Linked DNA regions of Homo sapiens. The protein of the gene in region 1 purifies or fractionates together with the protein of each later gene. This does not show direct contact. Each region holds a gene or a part of one and is shown in the gene's direction. Other genes may lie near its edges. The genes, in order: REPS1, HCN1, NUCKS1, L1TD1, ZDHHC5 and AP2A2.

Evidence for each region.
Region 2: the proteins of REPS1 (region 1) and HCN1 purify together in Homo sapiens (co-immunoprecipitation; one large-scale study listed by IntAct). This does not show direct contact.
Region 3: the proteins of REPS1 (region 1) and NUCKS1 fractionate together in Homo sapiens (co-fractionation; one large-scale study listed by BioGRID). This does not show direct contact.
Region 4: the proteins of REPS1 (region 1) and L1TD1 purify together in Homo sapiens (co-immunoprecipitation; one large-scale study listed by IntAct). This does not show direct contact.
Region 5: the proteins of REPS1 (region 1) and ZDHHC5 purify together in Homo sapiens (co-immunoprecipitation; one large-scale study listed by IntAct). This does not show direct contact.
Region 6: the proteins of REPS1 (region 1) and AP2A2 purify together in Homo sapiens (co-immunoprecipitation; 2 studies listed by BioGRID and IntAct, with this or other methods). This does not show direct contact.

Annotation. Positions count from the first base shown.
Region 1 is NC_000006.12:138,908,254-138,911,753, reverse strand, and holds part of REPS1 (ralBP1-associated Eps domain-containing protein 1), read left to right. Parts: intron 1-382; coding exon 383-478; intron 479-2,937; coding exon 2,938-3,086; intron 3,087-3,500. UniProt on the Homo sapiens protein: May coordinate the cellular actions of activated EGF receptors and Ral-GTPases.
Region 2 is NC_000005.10:45,254,448-45,256,914, reverse strand, and holds the end of HCN1 (potassium/sodium hyperpolarization-activated cyclic nucleotide-gated channel 1), read left to right. Parts: 3' UTR 1-1,967; downstream 1,968-2,467. UniProt on the Homo sapiens protein: Hyperpolarization-activated ion channel that are permeable to sodium and potassium ions. Displays lower selectivity for K(+) over Na(+) ions.
Region 3 is NC_000001.11:205,747,383-205,751,640, reverse strand, and holds the start of NUCKS1 (nuclear ubiquitous casein and cyclin-dependent kinase substrate 1), read left to right. Parts: upstream 1-1,458; 5' UTR 1,459-1,667; coding exon 1,668-1,684; intron 1,685-4,258.
Region 4 is NC_000001.11:62,201,349-62,204,848, forward strand, and holds part of L1TD1 (LINE-1 type transposase domain-containing protein 1), read left to right. Parts: intron 1-2,098; exon of another isoform or gene 2,099-2,209; intron 2,210-3,500.
Region 5 is NC_000011.10:57,695,614-57,699,113, forward strand, and holds part of ZDHHC5 (palmitoyltransferase ZDHHC5), read left to right. Parts: intron 1-306; coding exon 307-430; intron 431-1,147; coding exon 1,148-1,260; intron 1,261-2,945; coding exon 2,946-3,500. UniProt on the Homo sapiens protein: Palmitoyltransferase that catalyzes the addition of palmitate onto various protein substrates such as CTNND2, CD36, GSDMD, NLRP3, NOD1, NOD2, STAT3 and S1PR1 thus plays a role in various biological processes including cell adhesion, inflammation, fatty acid uptake, bacterial sensing or cardiac functions.
Region 6 is NC_000011.10:1,009,305-1,012,740, forward strand, and holds the end of AP2A2 (AP-2 complex subunit alpha-2), read left to right. Parts: intron 1-23; coding exon 24-93; intron 94-378; coding exon 379-513; intron 514-1,243; coding exon 1,244-1,321; 3' UTR 1,322-2,936; downstream 2,937-3,436. UniProt on the Homo sapiens protein: Component of the adaptor protein complex 2 (AP-2). Adaptor protein complexes function in protein transport via transport vesicles in different membrane traffic pathways.

The DNA of each region.
Region 1 (3,500 bases):
TCCCTCACACATCTACTACCTGCATCCTTGCCCCGTCCTCCTCTCCCTCACACATCTATTACCTGCATCCTCGCCCCATCCTCCTCTCCCTCACACATCTGTTACCTGCATCCTCGCTCTGTCCTCCTCTCCCTCACACATCTGTTACATAGCTGCATCCTTGCCCTGTCCTCCTCTCCCTCACACATCTATTACCTGCTCTCCCATCTGCCTTTCAGTAGCAGAGAAGGCTCATTTAATAAAGTTCCTTCAAGTTTCTTATCATCATCTCAGTTTTCTTGTCAGAATATTTAACATTTTATTCTGATTTGGTACATATTCTATATTTATGCATAATTACATGTTATGTAGAATTAATAGTGATAAACATATTCATTTTTAGGCTGAAAAAGCTTCTGATCCTGCAAGTTCTCTTCGAGTTGCCAAAACAGATAGTAAAACTGAAGAAAAGACAGCTGCTAGTGCTCCTGCCAATGTGGTATGCAAAATGTCTTTTATAATAATAATTTTGTACATCATAAGTAATGTGAAATAATTTTTAGAAATAAGGTCAGCCAGAAATCATCTAACCCATTTCTCTGCCTTTAACTGTAGTATAGTCAGTCTAGCTCAGAACAAAGTCTGCCTATTTAATGGAGATGATATTCTGTAATCTATGTTAAGTATGTGTCACAGGTTCTCAAAATTTAAGTGGTTATTGCATTCTTCCCACTATATAAGGTAGAACTTCTTTATAGGTGAAATTCAGTTTCTTTTATTGTAGTCTTCAATATAATAAAGAAAAATTATCAGCCCTCTAAGGTTGTTATTATTCCCTGTTCTCTTAACTTGTTCTTTAACTGTTTTAGGTATAATTTTTTCCCCCAACATTTTATTATGAAAACGTTTAAGCATACAGAAAAATTGAAACAATTTTTCATTGTACATCAGTAAATTCACTACTTTATACCATTATTATTTTAGGATACTTGCTTTACTACATATCTCTCCATGCCATCTGTTCATCTGTCAATCCTTATATGTTTTATGTCTGTGTTAGTCCGTCTGCATTGCTATAAAGGAATATGTGAGACTGGGTAATCTGTAAAGAAAAGAGGTTATGCCGGACACAGTGGCTCACACCAGTAATCCCAGCACTTTGAGAGTCCAAGGCAGGCGGATCACTTGAACTCAGGAGTTTGAGACCAGCCTGGGCAATGTGGCGAAACCCCGTCTCTACAAAAAGTACAAATATTAGCCGTGTGTGGTGGTATGCGCCTATAGTCCCAGCTACTTGGCAGGCTGAAGTGGGGGGATCGCTTGAGCCTGGGAGGTGGAGGTTGCTGTGAGCTGAGATAGTGCCCTACACTCCACCCTGGGTGACAGAGTGAGACCCTGTCTCAAAAAAAGAAAAGAGGTTTATTTTGCCTCATGGTTCTGCATGCTGTACAGAAAGCATGGTACCAGCATCTGCTTCTTGTGAAGCCTCAGGAAACTTAGAATCATGGCAGAAGGCAAAGTGGGAGCCGGTGTGTCACATGGTGAGTGAGGGAGCAAGGAGAGATGCCAGGCTCTTTAAACAGCCAGCTCTCATGTGAACTCAAGAGTAAGAACTCATTCATTACTGTGAGAAGGGCACCAAGCCATTCACAAGGGATCTATCTCCATGACCCAAACACCTCCCACTAGGCCCACCTCCAACATTAGAGGTCACATTTCACCATGAGATTTGGAGGGGACAAATATCTAAACTATATCAGTGTACTTTAGATTGCAAGTATCAGCACACTTTCCCTTTGAGGGAATAATTTTGGTAACTTTTTTTTTCTGTTATCTAGACATTCCCAATAGTTATAAAAACAGCATGTGTTTCTGAAGTGCTTAAATTCTACTTTCTGGACACTGTGTGTGTATTAGTCTGTTTTCACACTGCTATAAAGATACCACCTGAGACGGTAATTTATAAACAAAAGAGATTTAATTGACTCACAGCTCTGCATGGCTGGGGAGGCCTCAGGAAATTTACATTTATGGCGGAAGGCAAAGGGGAAGCAGGTGGCAGGATAGAAAAAGAGTGAGGAAGTGCCTCACTGTAAAACCATTAGGTCTTGTGAGAACTCCCTCACTCTCATAAGAACAGCATGGGGGACCACCCCCATGACCCAGTCACCTCCCACCAGGCCCCTCGCTTGACACATGGGGATTACAATTTGAAGTGAGATCTGGGGACACCGAGCCAAACCATATCACTATGTTTTATTACATTAGTAGTCCTGTGAGTTTTTAAGTAATGAACTTTATTTTTGTCAACTCACAGTAACAAATTAAAAATATCACTTAACTAAAGAGATAGCAGTTGACTATTGTTTTTATTTATTTACAGGTAAATCAAGTTATGGTAAATGCCAAAATGCTGTTTTTTATTCTGCCAAGGGCAGATTCATAATCACCGACAAACTGTCAACTCATTTTCAGAAGTTATAATTACTGTGCATATTAATAATGATGTTTTTGGTTTTTTAAAGAGTTGCCTAGCTTTCCATTACTTTATAATGTTATTTTATTCACTAAGATGAATGTTAGTATTTTTGAGTAAGAAATCCTATGGTGATAATGCATAGATATTTCTGGAGACTGCCTTTGTTTATTGTTGAACAGGTATATATTGATTCTGTATCATATTTATGTTAAAACTGTGAATATTACAGTCTTGCATCAGTATGTTGCTCTAAAAATACTTATATTGCAGGTACATTCATGATTGTGGTGTCAACTAGAAACATCTTTTCTCACTGTAATTTAAGTTAGCTCTTGCCACAAATATATAGATTTAAAGTAGGACAAGTAACTTTCAATTTTCCAAGAGCAAATGGCTTAAAGAAAGCAAATGGTGTTGCAAAGTGCTAACTATGAATGTCTTCAAAAATGCTTATTATTAATGGAATTCTTGTCTTAAAGAGCAAAGGCACAACACCACTTGCTCCACCACCTAAACCTGTTCGAAGAAGATTAAAATCAGAAGATGAATTAAGGCCAGAAGTTGATGAACATACACAAAAGACGGGTGTCTTAGCTGCTGTTCTTGCATCACAACCTTCTATTCCCAGGTAATCAAAGCTATTCCTAGACACATTTAATTACTAGGAAGAAAAAGCACGACAATTAAAAGTAATCAAACTGGCCCAGGCGTGGTGGCTCACACCTGTAATCCCAGCATTTTGGGAGGCTGAGCTGGGCAGATCATTTGTGGTCAGGAGTTAGACCAGCCTGACCAACATGGTGAAACCCCATCTCTGCTAAAAATACAAAAAAATTAGCCGGGTGTGGTGGTACACACCTGTAGTCCCAGCTACTCGGGAAGCTGAGGTAGGAGAATTGCTTGAACCCAGGAGGCGGAGGTTGCAGTGAGCCGAGGTGGCACCACTGCACTCCAGCCTGGGCAACAGAGCAAGACTTCATCTCACAAATAATAATAATAACAATAATCAGACTGAAGTAAATTATGGTCAGACTAGTTCTTT
Region 2 (2,467 bases), on another chromosome or scaffold:
AGTGATAAAATAATTTTGGCTAAAATAAAGCAAGTTCTCAGGCCAGGCGTGGTGGCTCATGCCTGTAATCCTAGCACTTTGGGAGGCCAAAGTGGGAGGAATGCTTGAGGCCAGGAATTGGAGACCAACCAGGGCAGCATGTCAAGACCTGGTCTCTACAAGGAAAAAAAATTTTTTTAATTGACCAGTATATACTTACATACCTGCAGTGTTTAGAAAACCCGACTATAGGTGGTGTATTCCTGTAGTCCTAGTTACTCAGAAAGTTAAGGCAGGAGGATCGCTTGAACTTAGGAGGTCAAGGCTGCAGTGAGCCCTGTTCGTTCCACTGCACTCCAGCTTGGGGGACAGAGCAAAACCCTTTCTCAAGAAAAACCCAAACAAACAAAAAAGTGAAGCCAGTTCTTTAATTTCTATTGGAGATATCACACACGCTCCAAAGAGTGGCAAAGGTGAACATTCTTTGGAGCTATTATATTTCTAATGTAACATCAATGGCCATTTACTCCCAAAGGGAAACATCTTTTTTTTTTTTTTTTTTTAAGATGGAGTCTGGCTCTGTCACCCAGGTGGGAGTGCAATGGCAGGATCTTGGCCCACTGCAACATCAGCCTCCCAGGTTTAAGCAATTCTCCTGCATCAGCCTCCAGAGTAGCTGGGATTACAGGTGCCCGCCACCATGGCTAGCTAAATTTTTGTAATTTTTAGTAGAGACAGGGTTTTACCATGTTGGCCAGGCCGGTCTCGAACCCCTAACCTCAAGTGATCCGCCCGCCTCACCCTCCAGAAGTGCTAGGATTACAGGCCTGAGCCACCGCACCCGGCCCTGCTATTTTTTTCTATGTAGTTGTTTCAGTAATACCATATGAGCAGAGAATACTATTGATTCATTCAATTGAAGAAATCTGAATAAATTAGTAAATATAATAATTCTTCAAAAGAGGACCACTTTATGTTTCCAATAGATTATATAATTGAATTCAGGTAACGTAGAGTTATTCAGACTTTTTTTTTTAAATAACGGAATTTTGCAAAAAAACAGGTTGCATCGTTTTCTACAGAGAATATTCAGATGTGTAGAGGCAAAGAGACTTTCTTGAAAGGTTTTTATTTCCTGTTAAATTTGTGAGGAAAACTCCTGAGAAAGGAAAGATTTACTTTTGAAGGAAGAAAGAACATAACCCAAAGAAATTTGAAAGATTCAAAAAGAGTTTTCCAAATGTATTCTCATTTCTTTCTCATATTTGTTCAAGGTCTTAGTTTCCAAGCATTCAAAATTAAATCTTGTTTGCCTAACTCTTCTAACATCTATTACCAACCTAACATATTACAATTCTGTTTAAAATGTGCAGTTCTAAATGTTCTTGCGTGCCTCACTGTGGAAAGTGTGGTGCATGGAACTGCAGCGTCAGTATCACCCAGAAGTATAATTACAAGAAGTGCAGAGTCCTTGGCCTTACCCTGTACCTACAGAAGTCCGCTTTTGGGCAAGATCCCCAGATGATTCATATGTGTATTAATATTGAAAAAATTGGAACTAGTAAGTCCTAGAGGAGGTAAATTTTAAGGGCTTTTTAAGGGAACTTCCAAGTGTGAAGACATTTCTGGAGATGACAAGTCAACATAGCATGGGATCTTGGCTAGACAAGGAAAGCGAGAGAACATTAAATAAACACAAGCAACGACAAACCACCTATGTTATAATTTTATCCTGGACCATCCAAAGTTTACTCTTGGTCACGCTGTCTAACCCAGCCTGCCTCCTGGCACTTGCTAGTTAGAACCAGGGAAGAGAAAACTAATATGTGTTAGGTATTATAATTTCCTTATGTCACATAAATTTTGGTGCCATAGCTAGCAATGTTTCTTAATATCACATCAGTACAATGTGTCCATTGCCTTCTGTAACATTTTTAATGCTATCAATAATACATTGACATTATAAAAATAAATGAATGTGGTCAATATTTTGCAAAGAGCTTCTCTTCATCAGCTATATCTATACACCTGCAGTGTTTAGAAAGCCTGACTACAAAAACTGGCTCTACTGCTTATGTCTTGCTCTACTTGCTTATTCTACCCATGGTAGAATTATATAGTCATATTGTGTCCGGAGTTGGTTCCTTCCAGTGGGTTCATGGTCTCACTGACTTCAAGAATGGAGCCACGGACCTTTGCGGTGTTACAACTCTTAAAAATGGCACAGACCCAAAGAGTAAGGAGCAGTAAGAGTGAAAACAAAGCTTCCACAGGTGGAAGCAAACCCCAGTGGGATGCCTCTGCTGGCTTGGGGGTGGCCAGCTTTTATTCCCTTATTTGTCCCCTCCCATGTTCCATTTTTGTCCTATCAGAGTGCCTTTTTTCAATCCTCCCTGCGATTGGCTACTTTTAGACTCCTGCTGATTGGTGCATTTTACAGAGCACTGATTGGTGCATTTTACAGAGCGCAGTTTGGTGCATTTTACAA
Region 3 (4,258 bases), on another chromosome or scaffold:
TTTTACAAAGGGAGACTTTCAGGAGGCAGATGTGGTGTGTTTTTTGTTGTTGTTGTTTGGAAAGTGTATCTTCAATTGGTTGTTAACTGACTGCTCATTGGAGACTTCTGCCAGATGCGCCCAGATCATTAGTCCGTTTGAATCATCACGTCTTCCAGGCCCCACCCTACTCTCTGATAGGCCCCACCTTCACCGTGGGGTCCTGTTAGTCAAGATGCTCTGAGAGCGCACAGCCACCAAACAAAAATGATCGCTTTGACTGTGACAGGGATTGACGTCTATTTTCGATAGCAGACTCAGCCTTAGCCATTCACATAGGAATCCTGAGCTCTGCCTTTGAGAGTATTAGGCATCCAACAAATGCTCACGGATTTAAGTGAAATGATGTGCGTTACTTTCAGTTATATGACTTCGAAGAGTCTTTGTTTTGTTTTTCAAAGTGCAAGGGTAAATCAATAGAATTCATAGGGTCTTGAGCCAGCTCCACCCATCTCTACCCAGGGACGGAATCATCTTTTAAAACTTGGATTTAACACTTACGTAGCACTTACTGTGAGCCAGAGACTATCCTAAAGACTTTTGATAGATATATCAACTCATTTAATACTAATAAGCCTATGCAGTTAGGTACCCTTGTTTCCCATTTTACAGATGAGAAAACTGAGGCACAGAGAAGGAAAGTTATACCACCATTAAGTAGTGGACCTGGGATTCCACCTGAAATACCTTGTGGCCCCTGAGCTCATGCTCTTAGTTATTGTACACCTGACTCTTTTCTTAAAATAGTAATGCACCAGACTGGGACTTTAATGACCCTGAAGTGGATCTCAAGGTCCAGAATGGAGAATGGTAATTGGGGGTGAAGATATTCCTTGATTATGATCCTGCCTCTCTACTCCAGCAGCCTCATTTGGTCCCTGAGGGTTAATGCCGAAGCCAGGGTAAGGGGCTTGTAGGTTTAAGGTCAAATTTTTTGAACCTAAGGAATTTCCCTCCAATTCTGTAGCAGCCCCGCAGTGACGAATCTGCTGCCTCTCCCACGGGTTTTGCTATTAGAGGATTTTCAAGGTGATCAAGGCAGACGAGATGAAACACCATTAAACTAACACTGAGCAACGCTGAACCCTACATAAATCTTTTTTTCTAGTCTTTCTAAGATACGACCCCAGACGAATCTGCAACTCTGGAGTGGAAACCAGGGGGCGGGCTAAGCAGCGACCATTTTTGTTTTGCGGCCGTGCGCTCTCAGAGCATCTTGACTAACAGGACCCCCACGGTGAAGGTGGAGCCTATCAGAGAGCAGGGCGGGGCCTGGAAGACGTGATGATTCAAACGGACTAATGATCTGGGCGCATCTGGCAGAAGTCTCCAATGAGCAGGCGTGTTGGGGAGGAGCGCACAAACCCTAGTGGGTTTGGTTGCACGGCGGCTTTGGCGCATTTTCGGCTGGTTTGATTCATCCATTTTGAAGAGACGGGGGAGCGGGGGGCTCGTCTGTTCCAGGAGCCCTGAACCAAAGAGCAGCGGAGTTTGAGAAGCCAGCAGCTCGGGGTTCGGCAGCAGCGGTCCCATCGGCTGAAGTTCGGGGGGGGTGGGGCGCCGAGCGCGCGGGGTGGGGGGGGTCCTGGTCTTTGGCTTCTCGACTCGGTCCTGTTTCGACAGCGAACATGTCGCGGCCTGTCAGGTCAGTGCGGAGTCTGAGGCCTGGAGCGGGTTGGAGGGGGATGGGGGCGAGTGGTGAAAAGAGTGGGGGACAGAAGGCTAGAGTCCGCCATCCCCGGTGCCGCGCGCGGCCTCCTCCCTTTCGGGGCCCGCGCGCACCCTTGAGCGTGGGGGGCCCTGCTGGCGCGCGGGGGTGGTGGCTGCGCGCCCGTGCGCGCGCCCCTCCCCGCCCCGCGCCGCTGCAGGGCTCCGGTCTGCTCAGCTGCCTCCCCCACCCACCGCACTAGAGCGGGCGGGGTGTCCCTGAGCCGCCAGCGGCCGGAGGGGGAGGGGTGTGAAGTCAGCGCCCCCAAGAGGCCCCACCTCCTCGGGGCCGTCCCCTTGGAGCCAGCGCGGGGAGGCGGGCGGACTCGAGCTCCACTCCCCACCTTCAGCGAGGAGGGGCGGAGGCACCCGTATTGCCCCTTCCCCCAGCGACTGGCGCGGGGGTGGGGGCCCTGAGCCCTCTCTGTAGCGGACGGGGGTGTTCCTGGCAAAGGGGGAGGGGCAGCACTGCCAACCGGCCCCGCCTCTGTCCTTCGGGGTCGCTGCAGGCCCCGCCTCCCGGATCGGGCCGAGCGTGGGCGGGACCCGTTTTTTTCCCCCCGGGCAAAAGTGAGAGTTCGGGACTGGATCCTGGAAAATAATGGGCTGCTGCCTCTCTCCCCACCTCAGAGTTTTGAGAGAGTTAACCCCAAAGTTCGCTCTTTCTCTCCGACTAGAAATGTCCTTCCTCGGGGAAATGTCCGTACTCAGGGAGGTGCGGGTTAACAGCACGGCCCAAATCCCGTGTGGTTCTCGTTCCACTCTCACCCGCGTACGCGTCTCGGGATATTTTTGTAACCCTCTTGTCCCCGAGTGACTTTAGTAATAAAAGGGCTAGGTTCGGGTAACCATCAGACTTCATTCTCGGAATTTCAACAAGTTTGCTATTCCCCCAGCTGTCGGTGGAATCGTCCTATGCCATTCTCCAGGCTATTGTATGGAATGTGCCATTTATGGAGGGGTGTGGTTTAGTCCAATCTGTTGAGGCCTTAAAAAGGAGAGCTGTTGCAAATAAATATTTTTAATGTAAGGAATTGGCTTCTTTGCATAGTGTGTTTTCTAAATAAATAGATAAAGGCTTAGTTTTTAAATGTTTTAACAGTCGTTGCTTCCCCTTCATTCCAAGTTGTGTGGGAAACGGAAGTACCTTTAATTAGAGTTCTAAAGAGAGGTTTGGGACCCTGGCAAGGGTTTTGTTCTACACCGTTCTGTCTCCAGACTAGATCATCCTCCAACTGGTGGTGGTATGAGACTGCGTACTCCTACACACGGGGTGGGAATGAGGAGAAAGCTGCTGTTAGCTCTGTTTCAATCAGCATCTGTGGTAACTCACGATCTCTACTCTGAAAGTTATGCTGGCCTTTTGGCAAGGAGTCTGGATAGCTCTTTCAGAGTATAGTTTGCGTAATTTTTTTGGCATAAAACTTGACCAATGTATCCATCAACTCACGTAGAATATTTTCTTTAGGATCAGGTAAAATAATAAAATAAAGATTTATTTTACCTGGATTGGATCTTTTGTCTTCTGGAAGTAATTACTGTGTGGTCAAATTAGGTCAAATTAGGAAAAATAATTCCTCTACCTTTTAAATTTTAGTTCACTAAGTTTTGATGACTTTATTTTATTGTGGTGACGTTCTTATCTCATCTGCCTGAATTTGTTTTCCCAGATTTAGGTATTGGAACATGAACAGAACATTTTTACTGGAAAACTTGGATTTTTTATGTTACCATGTGGGGATATATATATTAAGCACATTCTATCAGTTTTTTGGAGGCATTGGGACTTCTGCACAACTTTTTTATTACTCAGTATGTTGTTTAAACTAATTTTGACCTTGTTTATTTCCCCTAATTGAAGAGTGAAGTTAATATGTTGTGGGCTGTTTTTTTTTTTCTTTGCCATTTTCAAATTATTAATTTCAGAGCAAGTTGGTTACGGAGTATATTTTAGTCATAAATTCTTTGTAATTATTTTTTAAAAGAAGTCTTTATTCATGACCAATAATAAAGCAGAAATAATTAAACTTGAGTTTGGTGGTTTGTTAAATTTTGCAATAAAAAAGTCCTGACTTAGGGAAATGATGTTGTTTCAAAGTATAATTGAAGAATCTATATTCCCTTAGTGCATTTAACATCAACGAAAAAAGTGATAGACATTGACCTGATTTCAGAATCATCAGCCTTGTTTTAAAAACAAAAAAGCACAAGTTGGAAAATATTGTCACTGTGTCGTCTTTTGGGGTATTTCTGCCCTTAGGCCTGTGTATAATTTTGCAGTTTTTCTGGTTCTCATTGTACCATAAATATCCATTTTTATTTTAATATGAACCTAAACATTTTAAGAGCATTTGGAAATGTACCTATGGCACCTTAGCATCAATTTCCAAATGAAGGGTGGTATGGTGGACCTATTGGCTACTGCATGGTTTTGCAAAGACCTGTGTCTAGCACGTTATGTTTAACTTTGTTCATACAAGATTGCTGTCTTTACCCTTTGCAGTGGCCGACT
Region 4 (3,500 bases), on another chromosome or scaffold:
CAAGTCAAGTAGAAGTCTATTTCACCAGGGAGAGCTCAGTGGTTTTCCTTAAGGATTTTCAGTTTAAAAAAAAATATTAGAAGCATTATCAGGCTAGACCCGGTGCCACTGCACTCCAACCTCGGCGAGTGAGACCCTGCTTAAAAAAAAAAAAAAAAAAAAATTAGCATATTCAAACATCAATAAAAGTAAGAACTCATCACCTAGATTCAAAAACAAATATTTTCCCCCATTTGTTTAATCTCTCTTTTTTCTTTCTTAGTTGTTTGCTGTGTTTTAAAGTAAATCCCAGACATCATGCCATTTCACCTGTAAAAACTTCAGTATGTAGCTCTTATAAAATAAGGAGACTTTCTTAACTAAATACAGTATTGTTACAGTTAATAAAATATATATTCCTCAATATTTAATAATCAGTCCATATTCAGTACTCCCTGCATTTTACAGTTGATTCATTCAAATAGAGATCCAAAATAGGGGGAGCGTACATTGCATCTAGTGAATTCCCTTAGTCTCCTGAATGAGAGTGGGCCCCTTTATTCCTGTTGAAGTCCTGTATAGGGTCCTATGGACCTGTCCGGTGGACTATTTGGTTGCTTTCTCAGTCCTTGATTAGATTCAGACACTACTGGTGCTGGGTTTTTAAAATTTACTTAATTAAGAGGGATGAGGCTGGGTGAGGTGGCTCACGCCTGTAATCCCAGCACTTTGGGAGGCCGAGGTGGGTGGATCACCTGAGGTTGGGAGTTCGAGACCAGCCTGACCAACACGGAGAAACCTTGTCTCTACTAAAAGTACAAAATTAGCCAGGCGTGGTGGCACATGCCTGTAATCCCAGCTACTTGGGAGGCTTAGGCAGGAGAATCGCTTGAACCTGGGAGGTGGAGGTTGCGGTGAGCCGAGATCATGCCATTGCATTCCAGCCTGGACAACAAGAGTGAAACTTCATCTCAAAAAAAAAAAAAGGCTGAGGGTGAAATGTGTAATTAATATTGATTCCTTCTCTTTTTTAGTAATCATTTACATGTTTTACATGTTTCCTCTTTTGACCTTTACTCTGGTGTAATCAAGATTTTCTGTATACATTTGTCCCCCTTACCTCCTGTTGCTCATATTTTGGAAGTTACTTTGTGATAAATGAGTGCCGTGTTTTTTAAACAATTTTTTGTAACTATCATGCTTTTTTCTTTTTCTTTTCTTTTTTTTTTTTTTTAGCTGTTCATTTAAAATTTTTTATTTTTTATTTTTTTGAGACAGAGGCTTACTCTGTAGCCCAGAGGCGTGATCTGGGCTCATTGCAACTTCCACATCCAGGGTTTAATTTTTTTTTTTTTTTTTTTTTTTTGAGACAGAGTCTTGCTCTTTTGCTCTTGTCGCCCAGGCTGGAGGCAATGGCACGATCCCAGCTCACTGCAACCTCCGCCTCCTGGCTTCAACTGATTCTCCTGCCTCAGCCTCCTGAGCAGCTGGGATTACAGGAACCCACCACCACGCCCAGCTAAATCTGTATTTGTAGTAGAGACAGGGTTTCACCATGTTGGCCAGGGTAGTCACGAACTCCTGACCTCAGGTGATCTGCCCACCTCGGCCTCCCAAAGTGCTGGGATTACAGGCATGAGCCACCTCACCCAGCCTAATTTGTTTTTTAAAAAAACTGGAGATGAGGTCTCACTGCATTGCTGAGGCTGGTCTCAAACTCCTGGGCTCAAGCAATCCGCTCACTCACCTCGGCCACCGAAAGTGCTGGGATTACAGGTGTGAGCCACTGCGCTTGGCCTGTTTTAAATTTTTATGGTTACATAGTAGATGTATATATTTATTTCCATACAGGCATGCAATGTGTAATAATCACATCAGGGTAAATGGGGGTATCCTATGCACTACCTCAAACATTTATCATTTCTTCTTGTTACAAACATTCCAATTATACTGTTTAAGTATACAATAAGCTATTGTTGAGTGTAGTTACCCTGCTGTGCTATCAAATACTAGATTATTTTTGTACCCATTAACCATCCCTATTCCCTACATCCACCCACCTACTACCCTTCCCAGGCTCTGGTAACTATCATTCTACTCTCTTTTTTTTTTGAGACAGGGTCTCACTCTGTCGCCCGGTACAGTGGCGTGATCTTGGCTCACTGCAACCTCCACCTCCCAGGTTCAAGTGATTCTTATACCTCAGCCTCCTGAGTAGCTGGGACTACAGGTGCGTGCCACCACGTCTGGCTAATGTTTTTTTTCTTTTGAGACGGAGTCTCGCTCTGACGCTCAGGCTGGAGTGCAGTGGCACGATCTAGGCTCACTGCAAGCTCTGCCTCCCAGGTTCATGCCATTCTCCTGCCTCAGCCTCCCAAGTAGCTGGGACTGCAGGTGCCTGCCACCACACCCAGCTAATTTTTTGTTTTTATATTTTTAGTAGAGAAAGGGTTTCACCGTATTAGCCAGGATGGTGTCTTATCTCCTGACCTTGTGATCCACCTGCCTCGGCCTCCCAGAGTGTTGGGATTACAGGTGTAAGCCACCACGCCTGGCCTCTGCTAATTTTTGTATTTTTAGTAGAGATGGGGTTTCGCCATCTCGGCCAGGCCGGTCTCAAAGTCCTGACCTCAGGGGATCCACCTGCCTTGGCCTCCCAAGGTGCTGGGATTCTAGATGTGAGTCGCCGTGCCTGGCCTTTTTTCGCTATTCTCTAGAAGAGTTTGGGCACAGCTAAGATAATAGTTGCTTCTAAATTTTCTGATTTAATTATGAAAGTTGAATGGTGCTCCCATTTTTGAACCATGCTTTATCTGTAGTTGTGTCCCCTTGTTATTCATAGTATTCCTTATTTGTATTTTGGTTTTGTTAATTCTCTATAAGTTTCTGTTTTTCATTTCTTTGATTTGCGCGCATCTCTTTTGGTTTCTTGGGTAGATTTTGCCCTTGATCTGGTAATTTAACTTTAATTTTTATTCTTTCTAGAAAATTCTAAAATTTTAAGTCTATACATTTTCCTCAAAGCACCACTTTAGCTACATTCCCCAAGTTTTGATAGGTAGTTATCATTTTGATTTAGTATTTTAAGTTTCTCCATTAGTTTGACTGAATAGTCATTTTAAAATTTAAATAACTTTAACCTTTAGTATTTAAACATTAAACATAGAAGTTTTTAAGTTTAATTTATCTTTTACTTTTATGCTATCCTTTTTCCTGATTCAATTTTTATTGCAATGAAAAATTTCTGAAATTATTTTTTAGAAACAGCGTCTCACTATGTTGCCCAGGCTGATGTTGAACTTCTGGGCTCAAGTAATCATTCCACCTTAACCTCCCAGAGTGCTAGGATTACAGGTGTGGCACCGTGCCCTGCTTGAAATTCTTGGTTGGGTGCTGAGCATATATCTTTTGCCCTGACAAGAATGACATTTTAGCTGCTTATGTGATTCTTATTTTGCAGGGGAGGGGACAGGGTCTCACACTGTCACCCAGGCTGGAGTGCAATGGTGCGATGTCAGCTC
Region 5 (3,500 bases), on another chromosome or scaffold:
CCCCATCTCTACAAAATAAAGTAAAATAAATTAACTGGGTGTGGTGGCATGTGCCTGTAATCCCAGCTACTTGGGAGGCTGAGGTGGGAAGAGCACTTGAGCCTAGGAGTTGCAGGCTGCAGTGAACATGATCATGCGTACCACTGTACTCCAGCCTGGTCAACAGAGTGAGACCTTGTCTCAAAAAAAAAAAAAAAATACATGAGAATTGACTCCCAAATACCTCCCTCTTATATCAATTTAATACTTTGAGTTGCCATAATGCTCAATTTCTAAATCTGATTTTCCCTCCCTTCATCAATCCAGTCTAAGGGAAGCCTGGAGATAACAGAGAGCCAGTCTGCAGATGCTGAACCTCCACCTCCTCCTAAGCCAGACCTGAGCCGTTACACAGGGTTGCGAACACACCTCGGCTTGGCTACTAATGAGGGTAAGGGCTGCCTTGATTTGCAAGATACTAGAACTAGGGGCAGGATTGAGAAGGTTGCTTATGAGCTGTGGAAGACAGGCAAGGGCTGGGAGATATTACTCGTGTTGTGACTTTAAACACCCAACAGTTGGTACTTGTGCTACTTTGCAACTGAAAGAGAAGAGAGGCCATTTAGCTATTGGCAGTGAATGGGACTTTTGCCGGGAAAATGGTCAGCCTCTAGGCAGACCAGAGAACATCACAGAACCTTTTTGGTGCATTTACCCACCCTGAATTCTGGGCTGGTGTGAGTCTTTAAAAGTCTTGATTTCAGCGAAGGGTATATCTATTCCTACCTTGTCCTCTCCCTGTACTTAAGGAACCCTAGGCAGATAAAGTGAACAACTCATAGACTAGACGCAGTGGCTCACACCTGTGATCCCAGCACTTTGGGAGGCCAACGCAGGAGGATTGCTTGAGCCCAGGAGTTCAAGACCACCCTGGGCAACATAGCAAGACTCTGTCTCTACAAAAAATTTAAAAAAGTTAGCTGGGCATGGTGGCATATGCCTGCAGTCCCAGCTACTCAGGAGGCTGAGGTGGGAGCCCAGGAGTTCAAGGCTCCAGTGAGCTATAATCGTGCCACTGCACTCTAGCTTGGACAGTAGAGTGAGACCCTGTCTCTTAAACCAAAAAACCGCTTGTAAAATAGTGCCCCCTTGGCCTTTTTTCTTGCAGATAGTAGCTTATTGGCCAAGGACAGCCCCCCGACACCTACCATGTACAAGTATCGGCCGGGTTACAGTAGCAGCAGTACGTCAGCTGCCATGCCGCATTCCTCCAGCGCCAAGGTACTGAGTACTCTAAGAGGTGGGGTAATAACATGCCAACTGGCCAGGCACAGTGGCTCATTCCTGTAATCCCAGCACTTTGGGAGCCCAAGGTGGGTGGATCACAAGGTCAAGAGATTGAGACCGTCCTGGCCAACATGGTGAAACCCCGTCTCTACTAAAAATACAAAAATTAGGCCAGGCGTGGTGGCTCACGCCTGTAATCCCAGCACTTTGGGAGGCCGAGACTGGTGGATCACAAGGTCAGGAGTTCGAGACCAGCCTGGCTAATGTGGTGAAACCCCATCTCTACTAAAAATACAAAAATTGCCGGGCACAGTGGCTCACGCCTGTAATCCCAGCACTTTGGGAGGCTGAGGCAGGTGAATCACGAGGTCAGGAGATTGAGACCATCCTGGCTAACATGGTGAAACCCCGTCTCTACTAAAAATACAAAAAAATTAGCCAGGCATGGTGGCAGGTGCCTGTAGTCCCAGCTACTCGGGAGGCTGAGCCAGGAGAATGGCGTGAACCCAGGAAGCGGAGCTTGCAGTTAGCCGAGATCATGCCACTGCACTCCAGCCTGGGCAGCAGAGCGAGACCGCATCTCAAAAAAAAAATAAATAAATAAATACAAAAATTATCTGGGCGTGGTGGGGGGGCACCTGTAATCCCAGCTATTCGGGAGGCTGAGGCAGGAGAATCACTTGAATCTGGGAGGTGGAGGTGGCAGTGAGTCGAGATTGCGCCACTGCACTCCAGTCTGGGTGACAGAGTGAGAGTCCATCTCAAAAAAAAAAAAAAAAAATTAGCTGGTAGTGGTATGCATCTGTAGTCCCAGCTACTTGGCAGGCTGAGGCAAGGAGAATCGCTTGAACCTGGGAGGAGAATTGCTTGAACCTGGGAGGTGGAGGCTGCAGTGAGCTGAGCTCCCACTGCTGTATTCCAGTCTGGTGACAGAGTGAGACTACACCTCAAAAAAAAAAAAAAAAAAAAAAAGGCCAAGCACAGTGGCTCAAGCCTGTAATCCCAGCACTTGGGGAGGCTGAGGCAGACGGACCACCCGAGGTCAGGAGTTTGAGACCAGCCTGGCCAACTTGGTGAAACCCTGTCTCTACTAAAAATACAAAAATTAGCTGGGCGTGGTGGCGGGGCGCCTGTAATCCCAGCTACTCGGGAAGCTGAGGCAGGAGAATCGTTTGAACCTGGGAGGCTGAGGTTGCAGTGAGCCAAGATTGCACCATCACGCTCCAGCCTGGGCTTAAAACACACACACACACACACACACACACACACAAACAAATGCCAACTGTTACGGGAAAAAAAGAAGATTAGGGGAAGGAAAAGGCAGAAGAAAGGACATTTCACTAATTGTTGGCATTCGTGGAACTCAATCTCCTTGATACTGTGTCCTTCATCAGACTGGGCAATATAGCATAATAGATTAGTGCTTGATCCGAGTTTATAACCCAGTTCTGCCCACGGGCGAGATACTCAGCCTTTCTACGTCTTGCTTTCTGTATCTGAAAAGGAGATGATATTTGCCTGAATTCAGTTTTTCTTGAGGGATTAACCCAGATAATGCATGTAAGAGTTCTAAGCTTATTATTGGCACATAATTCTCTTTTTGACCAACTCCTTGAGCTCTGGGGTCTAGCTTCTGTCACAAAAGGAGCACTAAGAGCCTGCTTTACTTTCTTCCTCAGTTGAGTCGTGGGGACAGCTTGAAGGAGCCAACCTCAATTGCAGAGAGCAGCCGTCACCCCAGCTACCGCTCAGAGCCCAGCTTGGAACCAGAGAGCTTCCGTTCTCCTACCTTTGGCAAAAGTTTTCACTTCGATCCACTATCCAGTGGCTCACGCTCCTCCAGCCTCAAGTCAGCCCAGGGCACAGGCTTTGAGCTGGGCCAGTTGCAATCCATTCGTTCAGAGGGCACCACCTCCACCTCCTATAAGAGCCTGGCCAACCAGACACGCAATGGAAGCCTATCTTATGACAGCTTGCTCACACCTTCAGACAGCCCTGATTTTGAGTCAGTGCAGGCAGGGCCTGAGCCAGACCCACCTTTAGGCTATACCTCTCCCTTCCTGTCAGCCAGGCTGGCCCAGCAACGGGAAGCTGAGAGGCACCCACGTTTGGTGCCAACTGGCCCAACACACCGAGAGCCCTCACCAGTCCGTTACGACAATCTGTCGCGCCACATTGTGGCCTCTCTCCAGGAACGAGAGAAGTTGCTGCGCCAGTCACCCCCACTCCCGGGC
Region 6 (3,436 bases), on another chromosome or scaffold:
CTCGCCTTTGCTGTTTCTCACAGTCCACAGCAGGAAGTGCAGAACATCTTCAAAGCAAAGCACCCAATGGACACAGAAGTCACCAAAGCCAAGGTAACACGTCTGGAGGGACGGCCCCGGGGGACACGCAGCCCGTGACCCCGCGCCAGGGTCTGGAGGGACGGCCCCGGGGAACACGCAGCCCATGACCCCGCGCCAGGGTCTGGAGGGACGGCCCCGGGGGACACGCAGCCCGCGACCCAGCGCCAGGGTCTGGAGGGGCGGCCCCGGGGGACACGCAGCCCACGACCCAGCGCCAGGGTCTGGAGGGGCGGCCCCGGGGGACACGCTGCCCGCGACCCCGCGCCAGGGTCCTCATTCTCCTGTTTCTTTGGACAGATCATTGGATTTGGTTCTGCACTTCTTGAAGAAGTTGATCCTAATCCTGCGAATTTCGTGGGAGCTGGAATCATCCACACGAAAACCACCCAGATTGGATGCCTGCTGCGCTTGGAGCCGAACCTGCAAGCCCAGGTCAGGCCCTCAGGAAATGGTGGAACACACTTGAGTTGCTTTTTATTCTGGCACAATGTACGTGGTGAGATGTGTAGCTCTTTAGTGCAGTTCAGTCAGTTTTGACAGATGTTGTTTAACCACCACCCTGTCAATACATGGTTGCCTCCCAGCCTCCCCGCAGCTGGCCACCGTGGAGCATCATCCCTAGTGCAGTTCAGTCAGTTGTGACAGATGTTGTGTGCCTGTTTAACCACCACCCTGTCAATACATGGTTGCATCCCAGCCTCCCCACAGCTGGCCACCGTGGAGCATCGTCCCACCATGGAGCAGCCTGGCCCTGGGCGGTGGCTCTCCCAGCTGTTCCTCTCTGTCACCGCGTTGTTCCTTCTCACCACGTCCCGTTCTGGCGACGGACACCTGTCTCCGTTTCACTTGGGTGGCACCCAGGAGTGCTGCTGTCGCCCAGGGCCTGTGTGTGGTTAGTGCTGCAAGAACATCCCACAGCTTCTCCAGGTGGCCGTGCCACTTTGCACTCCCGCCAGCTACGTACGAGACGCCAGGCGCTCCCATGCCAGCCCTCAGTTTTCATGCTGACAGTGTGTGTGGTGCTCAGGCCTCTGCCGAGTTGTGGGTGCCTCCAGAGAGTGGTCCCTGGGCATGGCCCACAGGGTTCTGCATGGCGGATCCTGGACCCGAGGGCTGTGTGAGCCTCGGCGTGCCCGTTGACCTGCTGTGCTCTCTGTTTCAGATGTACCGGCTCACGCTGCGCACAAGTAAGGAAGCCGTTTCTCAGAGATTATGTGAATTGCTCTCAGCGCAGTTTTAGTCCTGAGGATGGAAGACCAGGCTCGTGTGTCTTGTGTTGTCTTCGTCTGTGCCGTTTGTCTTCGTGGCCATCCTGCAGATGAGCACCGTGTCCAGTGCCACAGCACAAGGCGCCTCCCCGCCCCGCCGCCCCACACCTCTCCCCTTTGGGCTGGACGGGAACACACGTGTGTGGCTCAGGAGGAAAAGCTCAGCCTGGACTGTGGCAGCCACGGCAGAAGGTGGATCTTGGGATCAATTTTTATAAAAATCGAGACAGTTCTGTGGTTAAATCTACAAATTAAAGGGAAATTAGAAGTTGGCGTGAACGTGGCGTTTGTGGGAGTGTCACTGAGATGGCCCGTGCTGCCGCCCACCCCGCCTCGGAGCCTCTGGGAGCAGCAGTGCCACTGTGCATGGCGTGGGCTGAGCCTTGGTGTGTGGCCGTCCTGGTGGCTGCACACCTGGCGTCGTCCTGGGCCCTTGGGAGGAGCACAGCTGACCCTGGTTTTGCTGCAGTCCCAGCTGGACTGTTTTCCCAGGCAGGATTTTAATCTAGAATTTAGAAACATTTGTATTTGTAATGACTTCTGGCAAAAGCACGTGTCCTGGCCGGATGTAACTGTTCTCCTTTCCCAGCTCCTGTTTGTGAAGGGCGTCTGTTATGCTCCTGCAGTCGCCGAGGCCTTGGATGTGCAGCCAGGGGAGGAGCGTCCTGCCGGCCCCGCAGGGCCCCCAGGACTCCAGGGTAAAGTGTGGGCCGGTGGCGCAAGACTCAGAGGTGTGCTCGTCTCTTTCCTGTCAGAGTGGGCGTCCCCAGGCCACGGTGCAGGCCTGAGTCCTTCCACCGGCCCCGTCCAGTCGTCCCTGGAGGGGCTGTGGAGGAGGGACGCCTCTGTGTGGTCAGGAAGTGAAGGGGCCATTGGCCGCATGCCATGTGCCACCTGCGGCTTGTGTCTCACCTGTCATCTGGACTCAGCACCCAGGCTGCACGTCTGACACCTGAGAGGCGAGAGAGTGGGGCCGGCCTAGGAGCCAAGGCTGGGGCCTTGCGCTCTGTCCCCAGGATGGTGGCCTTGTTTGTCCTAAACACACCCAGCACAGGTTCTGGCTTCCTGACATGCTGTGGAGGCAGGGAGGGTGGGTGGCCACATGTGCTTGAGGGTTTTCACCCTGGCCCTCAGTTGCCTGCTGTGCGGGTCCCTGGGGCAGCTGCAGGGGCTCATGGACCCATCAGGGTCTCCACAGCTCCCCTGCAGTGTGTGCACCCCACAATGTCTGCGGCTCTTCTTCCGGCGTGTCGGGCTTTGATCACAGCATAGCCACGTCAGTGGCGTGCGCCTCTCGCACAGGCCATTCTGGGTCTGGTGGTGCCAGGTGCCGTGACACGCCGTGCTGGGCTTGTGCTGCAGCTGGGTGGTGTGGCCCTCATTCTCATGTTCCAGCTGCTGGGCAGTGCTCTGCCTGTGTGCTGCGCCTGCAGGCTGCGTGTGCTGCCGTGGATCTCCTGCATCCCTTGACCCCTCCCGCCATCAGAGGAAAGGCTGCTCCCCGAGGCACCGCTTCCCTGTGCGGCGCTGCAGAGGGGCCCTCAGTGTGGCACTCCTCGTCAAAGAAAAATAAAGGCTAGAACTGCACCCCGGATCACGCGCTTTCTTTGGGGGGAAAGCATCCCATGTAACCCTCATAGCTCCCCGGGGGTCGCGTGAGGCACAGACCCCAAGGTCCCCGACCTGTCCTTCAGCAGTGGGCTCACGGGCAGCGGGCATCAGAAAGTGACCTGCCCTTTGCTCCGCCGGTTTGATTCTGGGTGTGTGGTGGAGCTTTTTGGGACTCAGGTCATGCGGGAACCCCTCCAGCCTGGCCGCAGGGCTCCCCACTGTACAGTGTGTTGAGGTGCAGCCCAGGGCTCCTTCCTGGGGAACGGGAGGCCCCGTGGGGATCCTCCAGTTGATCCTACCACAGATGGTGCAGAAGGGGCTCTCGGGCAGATGGGGGTGGCCCCCGGAGGACGGTGGGCTTCGCCAGAGACGGAACAGTCCTAATGGAGGGAGGGCAGGGGCCCAAAGCCAGAGGCAGCTTCTCTTACCAGCCCAGACCCTGCTGGGGGCAGCCCTGCCCAACTGCAGATCCCAGG